3 linked regions of the Homo sapiens genome follow. The protein of the gene in region 3 interacts with the protein of the main gene of each other region in a biochemical or structural test. Each region holds a gene or a part of one and is shown on either strand. Other genes may lie near its edges. The genes, in order: CCNA1, CDKN1C and MYBL2.

Region 1 (3,742 bases), on a different chromosome or scaffold from region 3:
TAAAACCACTTCCACTCAATTTTCTCCAAAGCTTTGAACAGAGCATGTGAAGAGTCAGTAGATGAGAGGCTTCTAATCTAGTTTCTACCATAGCTTTCTTTTGGCAGAGGCTTAAACCTTTCAGATTTTCTCACTTATGAAATAGGAAAGGTATAGTTTTCAGTCTGGTTAAGGTATCTATGATCAGTTAAGTTCACACAACTAATATCTGAGGGACCATTACCTGTTAGCATAGCTGCTTAGTCAGTACTGGGAAGATGTCTGCCTTCAAAGCACCCATTTTGGAGTAATCTAATCTAGCCTGATCTAATCCTGATTTTAACACTATCCGCAATGAACACAGCCAAGATTATCCAGGTTTGCTTTAGGCACAGCCTGCATCAATGTGAACACTGCTCTAACCTGGAGGAACCCCAGTTCCACAGTTTATTTGGAAGCATTCACATTTCCTTTTAGCCCAGCCCTTAAATTACTTTAATATACATAACCCAAACAGTTCCTAGACCTATTTCCTTGATAGTGGAAAAAATAACAAAGAAAACTAATCACTATTTCTAGCTGAAAACCGAACCCCTCAAGGTGATCTTAAGAAATCAACTGGCCTGCCACCGTGGCTGACGCCTGTAATCCCAACACTTTGGGAGGCCGAGGTGGGCGGGTCACCTGAGGTCAGGAGTTGGTGACCAGCCTGGCCAACATGGTGAAATCCCATCTCTACTAAAAACACAAAAATTAGCCGGGCGTGGTGGTGGGTGCCTGAAATCCCAGCTACTCGGGAGGCTGAGGCAGGAGAATCGCTTGAACCCGGGAGGTGGAGGTTGCAGTGAGCCGAGATCGCGTCACTGCACTCCAGCCTGGCGACAAGAGCGAAACTCCGTCTCAAAAAAAAAAAAAGAAGGAAAGGAAAGGAAAGAAAAAAAAAGGAAAGGAAGAAGGAAGAGAAACAAAGAAAAAGAAAGAAGGAAAGAAAGAGAAAGAAAAGAAAGAAAGAAAGAACGAAAGAAAGAAAGAAAGAAAGAAAGAAAGAAAGAAAGAAAGAAAGAAAGAAAGAAAGAAAGAAAGAAAGAAAATAAATCAATCAACTTTCCTGTAGTCCAGATTCCAGGGTTGTAATACTCAGGGGGAGTTGTAGGTACAAGGGCAAGAGAAAAGCACCTGGCACCAAAGCAGGAGAGCTGTTCTCCACAAGCATCATTCTCAATGCGTCTGAGTCATTACCTGGCCACAGGTCCTCCTGTACTGCCCATTTGCAGTTAGCAGCCCTAGCACTGTCCTCTGCGGGGGATCCTGGCCCAGCGGGGCTCTGGTGAGTATCTGACAAGCATCGGGACCTCGGGCCACTGTAGCCAGCACAACTCCACTCTTGGGGTTGCTGCAGTGCATTGCTTCAGACTCCACGGGCTGCTGCTACCAGGGAAAGAGAAACAGACAAGCTGTTTAGTCGATTCCGTCCACCCCGGGCTCCAAGGACACAGCGAACCTCTAGGAGGGAGAGCACCAAGCAATGGGACTAACACCAATTGCTGATCTTCCCAGTAATTATTGGGGCTGAAAGGGCAGGTGCGACCGCACAGGCGATCAAAGTTGCTCTGAATCAAAACAGTTATTTGAATCCCTGAGGGAGGCTTTTTATCCCAAGACTTCGTGTTGGGCTGGAAGGAGAGAAACATTCTGACAAGCCTCCAAGTCGGGATACTAAACCCACGTTACCTGGAAGACGAAATCTGGGAGCCCCGGTCCTTCCCAGCTGAGATACTCTTCTCCCCAGCCCCCAATAAAAGATCCAGGGTACATGATTGCGGGAAAGCCGGTCTCCATCCCAAGTGACGAGCAGGGTGCTGCGCTGCGGCCTCCTCCCACCAGACAGGAGGCCCCAAAACCTGCCTGGACCCCAAAGCGGGCCCCGCTCTTCCCGTCGTTATCTTTCTATGTGTCCGGAACAACTGGCAAGTGCACTGGAGGATCGCGGTTAAGAGGTGGCCGGCTGGGCGGGGCAGGGCGGGGCAGGGTTGGGCAGGGCCGGGCCGGGCCGGGCGGGGCAGGGCGGGGAAGGGCAGGGAAGGGCAGGGCACGGAAGGGCGGGGCGGGAAGGACCAAGTGTCGAGGGATTCCAGCCTGGGAGGCGGCCGGGCTTAGCGATGCGGCTGAGCTGCCCACCCGCGTCTGTTGAATCGGCCAATCAGCGGCGCCCCCGGACCTAGCGGGAGCGTTTCCATGCCGACCGCGGCAGGCGTGCGCTCTCCGGGGCCGCATCGCCATGGCGACCTGCTCACCTGACTCGCTCCGGGTGGACTCGCCGCGACCCCTGGGCGTTCAGGCCCCTGAGGGCCCAACGGGCGACGGCCCTCCAGCTCCAGCTGTGCGTCTCCGCCCGGGCGAGGTGGGGCTGACCGCGGCCGTCTGCACACGTCCCCTCTGGTCCGCGCCCCCGGCCTGGGAGGGCGGACTCGCCCACCCCACGATGGCCCCGGCTTTGGAAGGGACTGTTTCCGTGACCCGTTCTCCCAACAGCCGCTAACAACCCCCTCTAACGTCTCCTGCGCGGCCCGCTCCTGAGAACCCTGGCTCGGGAGAGCGACGCGGGGTCCTCGGGGCTGCGCAGGCTGCGGCGCCCTGCCCACGCTGGCCCGAGGGCGCGGCTCGCTCCGGGTCGGCTCACACACCTACGCTTCCTGCCGGGAGGCGGCTGGGACGCGGCGGGGCTGCCCCAAGTGCAGTCGCGGCAGTGTTGCGTCTCCATCGCGGGGGTCCTTGCGGGCCGCGCCTGCCCCGCCCGGCTCCCGGTGCATGTGGCCTGCGAGGCGGCAGAGGAGATGTGGGGATTTAGGGTCGCACGTCGTGCTCGAGGTCCCCACGAGAGGTCTTCCCCCGCGGGCTCCTGCGCAACTGCGTGAAGCCGGCCCGGGAAAGCCAAGATTGTGGCCCAGGAAGAGGAAGGAACGCGGGCGACAGAGCTGGGGCTTGGGACGTTGAGGGGGTCGGTGGCAGCTCTCCGGGCTGGGGGCCGGGCGGGCGGCCCGGCCGCGTGGGGAGAGGAGTCCCTGGGGTCCTTATACGGGGGGCTCCTGGAAACCCGGGGGCTCAGACGCCTGCATAGGTGACTGACAAGCCAGGTGAAATAATCGAACTTTATTTTTTTAAAAATAATATGTATATATGCACACACACATTACCAATGCTATAGTCTGTTACTACTTTTGCTTTTTTTAAAACATCCATCCCTAAATCTCTAAATCAGATCCAAAGTCTATTCAAATGGCCACTTTATGCAAGCAACGGTTATCACCGTTTTTCTAAGTGTGCGTTATTAACATTTTCACCAAGCAAACTGAGTGTGGACATTGCTTTAATGGGAAGATAGTAGTATTCTAACAAAAGCGCCGGTTGAAAGCCTTGCAGTTGAGGTAAATATTAAGAAGTTGGTAAGCATCTGGAGAATCAAGGCTGGATGAGGGAGGAACGCAGAAACGGATCTTGTTCAACATGAAACTCATTTCTATACGTTTGTCACAGACTTCTATTCCTTGAGAGACAGCAGTCCGCTTGCACCCCAGATTTCCTGTGCCTTTGAATATGAAGGAAACACGGGAATTCTGGTAACATCTAGATTGCCGCAACAGAGAGTCAGAGGCCAACGGGGACCAAATGCTCTGCTTCGAAAGGTGAATGAAAGGAGCATTTCTGTCCTCTTGCCTGACGCCACTATTGGATATCTTCCCGGGCGCCCTCCCCCACCTGCCAA
Region 2 (3,742 bases), on a different chromosome or scaffold from region 3:
AAACCGAACGCTGCTCTGCGGCAGCCGCCGCCGGTTGCTGCTACATGAACGGTCCCAGCCGAGGCCCAGCGCCCTTCCAACGTCCGCTGCCCCGGCAGGTTCCCTCGGGGCTCTTTGGGCTCTAAACTGCGAGGAGAGGGGCGGTCAGCAAAGCCGGCGGGGACCCGGCGGGTCGGCCCTCCGCGCCCCCCCAGGTGCGCTGTACTCACTTGGCTCACCGCAGCCTCTTGCGCGGGGTCTGCTCCACCGAGCCCACGCCAGGGGCGGCGCTTGGAGAGGGACACGGCGCGGGGACATCGCCCGACGACTTCTCAGGCGCTGATCTCTTGCGCTTGGCGAAGAAATCTGCGGGCGACAGCGCGCGCGGCCGGTCAGGGCGGGGCCGGCCCGGAGACCCGAGAGGGGGCCGGGAGAGGGCGCGGGGCGCGGGCCGGCCGGGGTGGGGGCGCCGTCCCCGCCCGCGCCGAGGTCCGCGGCGGGTCAGCTTTGTTTACGTCGCCGCGCAATGTGCTGTGTAAGCATTTCCCCTTGTCCCGCGGCCAAGCCCCCCGGGGCCGCCGCCGCGCTTAACCCCCTCCACGCCGTGCTCACGGCGCCCGGCCGCGCCCGGGGAGGGGCTCCCGCGGCCGGGGGCGAAAACTGCGCTCCCGGGGGGTCGCGGCCGGGATTCAGCCTCCCACCCCGCCCGCGCGAAGCCGCTGGAGGGCACAACAACGGGGCGGGGAGGGGGGTAAGGGCGCAGCCGCGCCCTGAGCGCTGCGGGCCCTTTAATGCCACGGGAGGAGGCGGGAACCCAGCGAGGCCCCCGAGGGCTGGGGGGACCGGCCGGCCGGACAAAGCGGGGCCGGGCCGGGCCGGGGCGGGGCCGTGCGGGGCTCACCGGAGATCAGAGGCCCGGACAGCTTCTTGATCGCCGCGCCGTTGGCGCTGGCGGCCGCGGTGCCGGCCGCGGGACGTCCCGAAATCCCCGAGTGCAGCTGGTCAGCGAGAGGCTCCTGGCCGCGCTGCCCCTGGTTCGCGCCCTGCTCGGCGCTCTCTTGAGGCGCCGCGTCCGGGGCCGGGGCCGGGGCGGGGGCCGGGGCCGGGGCCGGGGCCGGGGCTGGGGCCGGGGCCGCGACTGGAGCCGGGGCCGGAGCCGGAGCCGGAGCCGGGGCCGGGGCCGGGGCCAGGACCGCGACCGCGACCGGAGCCGCGACCGGAGCCGCGACCGGAGCCGGAGCCGGGGCCGGGGCTGGAGCCAGGACCGGGACTGGGGGCGGGGTGGACGCCGGGGCCGGGACCGGGACACTAGGCAGCTGCTCCGGCGCCTCCTCGAGGCCGTCGAGGGACTCAGCGGCCGGCTCGAGGGGCGGGCTGACAGCCACCGCGACCGCGACGGGCCGCGGCGCCAGCAGCAGGCGGCAGCGCCCCACCTGCACCGTCTCGCGGTAGAACGCGGGCACCGAGTCGCTGTCCACTTCGGTCCACTGCAGGCGTCCAGGGCCCCGCAGCGGCATGTCCTGCTGGAAGTCGTAATCCCAGCGGTTCTGGTCCTCGGCGTTCAGCTCGGCCAGGCGGGCCTGCAGCTCGCGGCTCAGCTCCTCGTGGTCCACCGGCCCGAAGAGGCTGCGGCAGGCGCTGGTGCGCACTAGTACTGGGAAGGTCCCACGGGCGACAAGACGCTCCATCGTGGATGTGCTGCGGAGGGACGCGTCGGACATGGCCCGGGGCTGCGCAAACGCGGGCAGCGAGAGAGGAGAGGACAGCGAGAAGAAGGGGAAAGGAGAGGAGGAGAGGGCGGAGGCCGGGCGCAAGGGAGACCCCGCGCCGCCCGACTCTGCGTGTGCGAGGGACGCGGCGGCTACCTGGCTGTCCGGTGGTGGACTCTTCTGCGTCGGGTTCGCCTGTCTCGTCCGGACGGCAGCCGCGCCCCCTCGATGCCTGCTGGCTAGCTCGCTCGCTCAGGCCTGGCCGGCACCCCTCGAGCACAGCGCACTTGGCCTGTGGAACGCCCAGCCCGCCTGCGCCCCCTTTATACGCGCGGGCCCCACCCCCGTGCGCGCGGGCCCGGCCGCGATTAGCATAATGTAGTATTTTCAGTTTCAACAACACCACGGCGATTGGCGGCCGCCCCGCTGCCCCGCCCCGCCGCGGCCCGGCCCCCGCGCACCGCCCATTGGCCGCGCGCACACCCACCGGGGGCGGGGCGGGGCGCGCGGCCGGGGCGCGCGGCTGATTGGCGGCCGCGGGGCGAGCGCGCTGTAGCAGGGGAAGGGGGCGGTGAGCGGGGCGGGGGCGGGAGTTAAAGGGCGCTGCGGGCGGTAACGTGACACCGCGACGCCCGCCCCCTCGCCCCATCCCCCCTGCAACACTCCCCCACCCCCCCGGCTCCCGCCCCCCGCCGGCTCCTTTGTCTGCAGGCGGGGGCCTCAGCCCAGCGCGGCAGGGGCCGGCTCCTGGCGGGTCCGGTGTCCGGCCAGGCCCAACTCGACCCCGGCCCGGTCCGGACCCCGGCGCCCAGCTCCGTCCCGCGCTCGCCCGTGGGCCTCCTGCGCCAGCTGACGAGGCTTGGACCCGCCGCTGCCAGCTCGGCCCTGGCCTGCGCCGGATGGGGTCTTCGGCTGCCCCCGCGCGGCCTGCTGCTGCTGGGCTGGTGTCCCTTCGAGGGCTCCGCGCGCCTGGAGCCCTCACACACCTGCTGGCCCTAAGGCCCTCGAGTCGGGAGGGGGGACAGGGGTCAGCTCCACTCTTTCCCCGAGGGACCATGTGTGGGACACCTTGAGAGACTCCCACCAGCCCCCTGGAGCTGGAGTCTGAAGCCGCTATCTGCGGAGGCCCACCCTGCCCAGTAGATGGAACAGGGGCTGAGCCCATCATGTCACTGTCGGGGGTCCCAGCCCTTCTCAGCCTTGGGCCAGACCACTCCAGCCCCGGGATCTGCCTGTCCAGGCTGGCTGGAAGCTGTTGTACTGGGTAAAAGTGAAAGATCTGCCCGAGGTCATAGGGGAAGGGGCTGTGAAGGACCATGCCCCTCCCCCGCCTGCAGCCCTTCCTGGTACAGACCTCGGTCGTGCGCGCACGCACACACACACACACACACACACGCACGCACACACACGGTGCTTCACCCCAGCCAGGCCAGACCAAAAGAGACCATTATTTCCTGCTGCCTCCCTTTTGGCCCACCTACCATGAGGCAGGGAGCCCCCTCCTCAAACCAGGAGCCTCCCAGATCGGGATGGGGACTGTCAGACACCTGTTGGAGGGTCCAGCAGCCCATGAGATCTAAGCCCCTATCTCAGGTGAGCCTGTGAGCCAGCAGAGAGACCTCTGGGAGGGAGGGAAGGTGCGGTCCCCTGAACCCCAACCAGCCTGCCTTTGAGTCCCAAGACACCCCCACCCCCATGGAATGCTGTGGCAGTGTGCAGCTGCAGCTGGGGGAGCAGGGCGGGTCTTCTGGGTCTCAGGGAAGCGAGATCTGAAGTGAGGGGGGTGAACTGGATGGGACAGGGCGTTAACCCAGGAGAGGGGCCAGGGCCATTCTTGGCTCTTGATGGTGGAACCAAAAGCCATGATTTATGTGCAATTTCATATTCTTCTCTGTGCACAATTTACAAATTTCCCGCAACAAGCCCAGATGTCACAATTTTCATCTTAGGAAAACAAAGAGAAGCTGAAGAAGGCTCCCCAGGCCCTGCGAACCCCTCAAGCAGGGCTCATATCAACTGGCCTGGGGGCAGAAAGAGGCAAAGTCTAGTCTGCT
Region 3 (3,742 bases):
AACGAAATATAGAGCAGTGAATGGGATGTCACTCATCATTGATGCCTCCTTGGGGCAGCTCACAAAAGTTATTTCCAATCCCCACAATTCTGCTAGGGAAGCATTACTTTCCCTTTCATACCAAGGAAGCTGAGCTAAGGGGATTCGGTCTTCCCAAAGTTACTCACTCAGCTTCTAGAACAAGCCCGTGAGTCACTACAGGTTTTCCCTCCTTTACCCAATAAATCACAACACAAACCAAAAGGCTTCTGGACACAGAGGCTTCCACTTTGGTCTTTGGGTTCTGGCTTCTGAGTGGACCCAGACACTAAAGCCGAGTTCTGGTTCCCTGGGGTAGTTCACTCCTAAGGGTGGAGGCCAGCTGGGGGGCAGGACCGACCTCAGGCCCACACCCCAATTCAGGGAGGACCCAGCACCGACAGTGTCTGGTAGACCAGAAGTACATCCTACAAGGACCACTGAAGTGGACGGAGCAGAGGAGGGAAGATGGGATTTCCACACACGCAGTAACTCCCCCAACAGGCGCTGAAGGTCATTGTGGAAAGAGCCTGAGCTCTGAGCCGGACAGCAAGGTTTAACTCCTGTTCCTGGAGGTCACCGGCTGTGTGAACCTGGCCAAGTCTCCTAACCTCTCTGAGCGTGGGGTGCTCTCACTGTTGATGAGTCCACTACCCACCTCACAGGCTGTTAAAGACCAACTAAGAGCCTACACATTAGGTAGCAAGTGATGGGCCTGGCACGCGGCAAGCACTCCAATGTTAGGTACTGTAATTACTCATTAAGCACTGGCTCCGGCAATCAGTGGGTGCTCAATACAAGCGAGCTGTGCCTGCCAAGCGATAGTAGCAGGAGCATAGCATGGCAGTCAAGACCACCAAGTATACTTGCTGTGCAACCTTGGGTACACTACTTGACCTCTCTGAGCCTCAGTTTCACCTAAAAAACAGAAATGACACACCTCACAGGATACCACGCAGACTGTATGTTAAGCTCAGACCCTGGCAGTTAGATGTTCTAGGATGGGAGACACCTGGGTGGAAAGGCGAACACGGACCCCCATACTGAACTCCCCACCCTAGTGACCAGGCCTCTGGTCTTTCACCTCCCAAAACCCGCTCTACACAGCAGGCCTGGCCGATGCAGCCAGGAGCCGGGGTGTCACACCAAGAAGCCCTCCTCAAAGGACACAACCACACAGCCAACACAGTAACCACAACACGGGCTCAATGGCTGCCCCACCCTGAGTAACCAGAACCCACTCACCACTCCAAGACCAGCACCAAGACTTGGCATTTCCTGGGCTCCTCTTCAGGGAGACCCAACCATGTGTGATGCCACAAATACCACGCTGTCCTGTGCTGTCACCTGCCAGTCAACCTTTAGGACTCAGTTCAGTGCCACCTCCTCTGGGCAGCCTTCCCACCCCGCCCTGTGCCATACATAGAGGTCAGATGCCACCACAAACTCCTGCTGCACACACCGGGAGCTCCCCAAGGATAGGGACTGCATGCTGACAACCCTGGTGTCCCCAGCCCTTGGGTCAGGGCTAGGCATTCAGCATCAAGTCAGTAACTGTTAGCAGGGCGATGGAATGAGCAAAAGGATGTGGGCCTGAGAGAGAAGCACTTCCTGCTGGGGGTGTTCTGTGCTCACTGTGAAGTGTTGTGACCAACATACCGACTCGATCAAGTCCAGGGCTTCAGAGAGGCTAGAACCCACAGCAGGGATGAGGAGGTTAGCTGCCTCCACCACCCACTTGTAAGGCAGGCTCGTTTCTGGTGGGGAGCCTTCCTGGTCCTCACGCTTCGGGAATTCCTCCAAGGGCTCTGGTGTTCGCACTGCGTCCAGATCTGTACCGATGGGCTCCTGTTCCTTCGATGTGGTGGCTGCTGCAAGTTCCTCCTCACTGTTTTCCTCCTCCTTTATGGTAGGAGGGACGGAGGGCCAGTTGGTCAGAAGACTTCCCTGTAAGACACAAGAATACACCATTTGCATTTCGCTGAGATATAGACTATATAGTAGTTTCCAGCTAAACCACACAACCTGAATCTAAGAAGGAAACTGTGATGAACCCAAATAGAGAAACATTCTACAGAATAATTAGCCATACCATATACTTCCAAAATGTCAACATCATGACACTAAGAAAGGCTGACTAAAGGGATAGGACAACTAAATGCAATGTCTGGTCTTAGACTGCATCATGGACAGGGAAAAATGGAATATAAACTGTAGATAAAGATCCTGAATTAGGCTTAAATTCCCTGGATTGAATATAACTTTATTGTGGTTATGTAAGCAAATGGCCTTATTCTTAGGAATCTATGCTACATAACTAACTCTCAAATGGCTCAGATGAAAGAAGTAATACACAGAGGTTGGGTGCAGAGGCTCACGCCTGTAATCCCAACACTTTGGGAGGTCGAGGCTGGTGGATCACCTGAGGTCAAGAGTTCGAGATCAGCCTGGCCAACATGGTGAAACCCTGTCTCTACTAAAAACAAAACAAAACAAAATTAGCCAGGTGTGGTGGCAGGCACCTGTAATCCTAGCTACTCGGGAGGCTGAGGCAGGAGAATTGCTTGAACCTGGGAGGCAGAGGTTGCAGTGAGCTGAGATCGCACCATTGCACTACAGCCTAGGTAACAAGAGCAAAACTCTGTCTCAAAAAAATTAAAAAATAAATTTTTAATGCTTAATAAACATTAAAAAATAAAAAGACCAGGTACAGTGGCTTATGCCTGTAACTCTAGCACTTTGGGAGGCTGAGGCAATTGGGTCCCTTGAGTTCCTGAATTCAAGGTTGCAATGGGCTATGATCACACCACTGCACTCCAGCCTGGGCAACACAACAAGACTCTAATAAAAAAAAAAGGGAGGGGGGAGGGGGCTGGGTGTGGCGGCTCACACCTGTAATCCCAGAACTCTGAAAAGCTCAGGCAAGAGGACCCCTTGAGTTCATGAGTTCAAGGTTGCAGTGAGCTATGATCACGCCACTGCACTACAGTCTGGGGTACAGAGCAAGACCCTGCTCATTTAAAAAAAAAAAAAAAAAAAAAATCACGCCTGTAATCCCAGCACATTGGGAGGCCGAGACGGGCGGATCACAAGGTCAGGAGGATCGAGACCATCCTGGCTAACACGGTGAAACCCCATCTCTACTAAAAATACAAAAAATTAGCCAGGTGTGGTGGCAGGCGCCTGTAGTTCCAGCTACTTGAGAGGCTGAGGCAGGAGAATGGTGTGAACCCGGAAGATGGAGCTTGCAGTGAGCCGAGACTGCGCCACTGCACTCCAGCCTGGGCTACAGAACGAGACTCTGTCTCAAAAAAAAAAAAAAAAAAAAAAAAAAAAAAAAAAAAAAAAAAAATATGCGGGGCGTGGTGGCTCACACCTGTAATCCCAACACTTTGGGAGGCCAAGGCAGACAGATCCCTTGAGCCCAGGAGTTCGAGACCAGCCTGGGCAAACCCCATCTCTATAAAACAAACGAACAAACAAAAAGTGAATTTTATTGTATGTAAATTATACCTTTATAAAATAAAGAAAAAAAGCTACCAAACTGGGAAAAAATAGTTACTACATGATAAAGGAGTAGCATCCTTAATATACAAATAAAATGTACAAACCAGTAACAAGATAAAAAAAAAAAAAAAAAAAGACAACCAAGCCAAATAACAAATTAACAAATTAAGGGGTAATTTGTTACTCACCCTCATTAATAGTAAAAGAAATGAAAACC

The links.
Region 1: the proteins of MYBL2 (region 3) and CCNA1 form a complex in vitro, tested with the Homo sapiens proteins (2 studies listed by BioGRID, with this or other methods).
Region 2: the proteins of MYBL2 (region 3) and CDKN1C form a complex in vitro, tested with the Homo sapiens proteins (one study listed by BioGRID).

What each region holds. Positions count from the first base shown.
Region 1 is NC_000013.11:36,430,698-36,434,439, reverse strand, and holds the start of CCNA1 (cyclin-A1), read right to left. Parts: upstream 1,946-3,742; 5' UTR 1,711-1,945; intron 1,408-1,710; 5' UTR 1,384-1,407; coding exon 1,219-1,383; intron 1-1,218. UniProt on the Homo sapiens protein: May be involved in the control of the cell cycle at the G1/S (start) and G2/M (mitosis) transitions. May primarily function in the control of the germline meiotic cell cycle and additionally in the control of mitotic cell cycle in some somatic cells.
Region 2 is NC_000011.10:2,883,790-2,887,531, forward strand, and holds the start of CDKN1C (cyclin-dependent kinase inhibitor 1C), read right to left. Parts: upstream 1,987-3,742; 5' UTR 1,845-1,986; exon of another isoform or gene 1,701-1,844; coding exon of another isoform or gene 1,668-1,700; coding exon 881-1,667; intron 346-880; coding exon 215-345; coding exon of another isoform or gene 210-214; intron 127-209; 3' UTR 122-126; coding exon of another isoform or gene 1-121. UniProt on the Homo sapiens protein: Potent tight-binding inhibitor of several G1 cyclin/CDK complexes (cyclin E-CDK2, cyclin D2-CDK4, and cyclin A-CDK2) and, to lesser extent, of the mitotic cyclin B-CDC2. Negative regulator of cell proliferation.
Region 3 is NC_000020.11:43,697,980-43,701,721, reverse strand, and holds part of MYBL2 (myb-related protein B), read right to left. Parts: intron 1,966-3,742; coding exon 1,678-1,965; intron 1-1,677. UniProt on the Homo sapiens protein: Transcription factor involved in the regulation of cell survival, proliferation, and differentiation. Transactivates the expression of the CLU gene.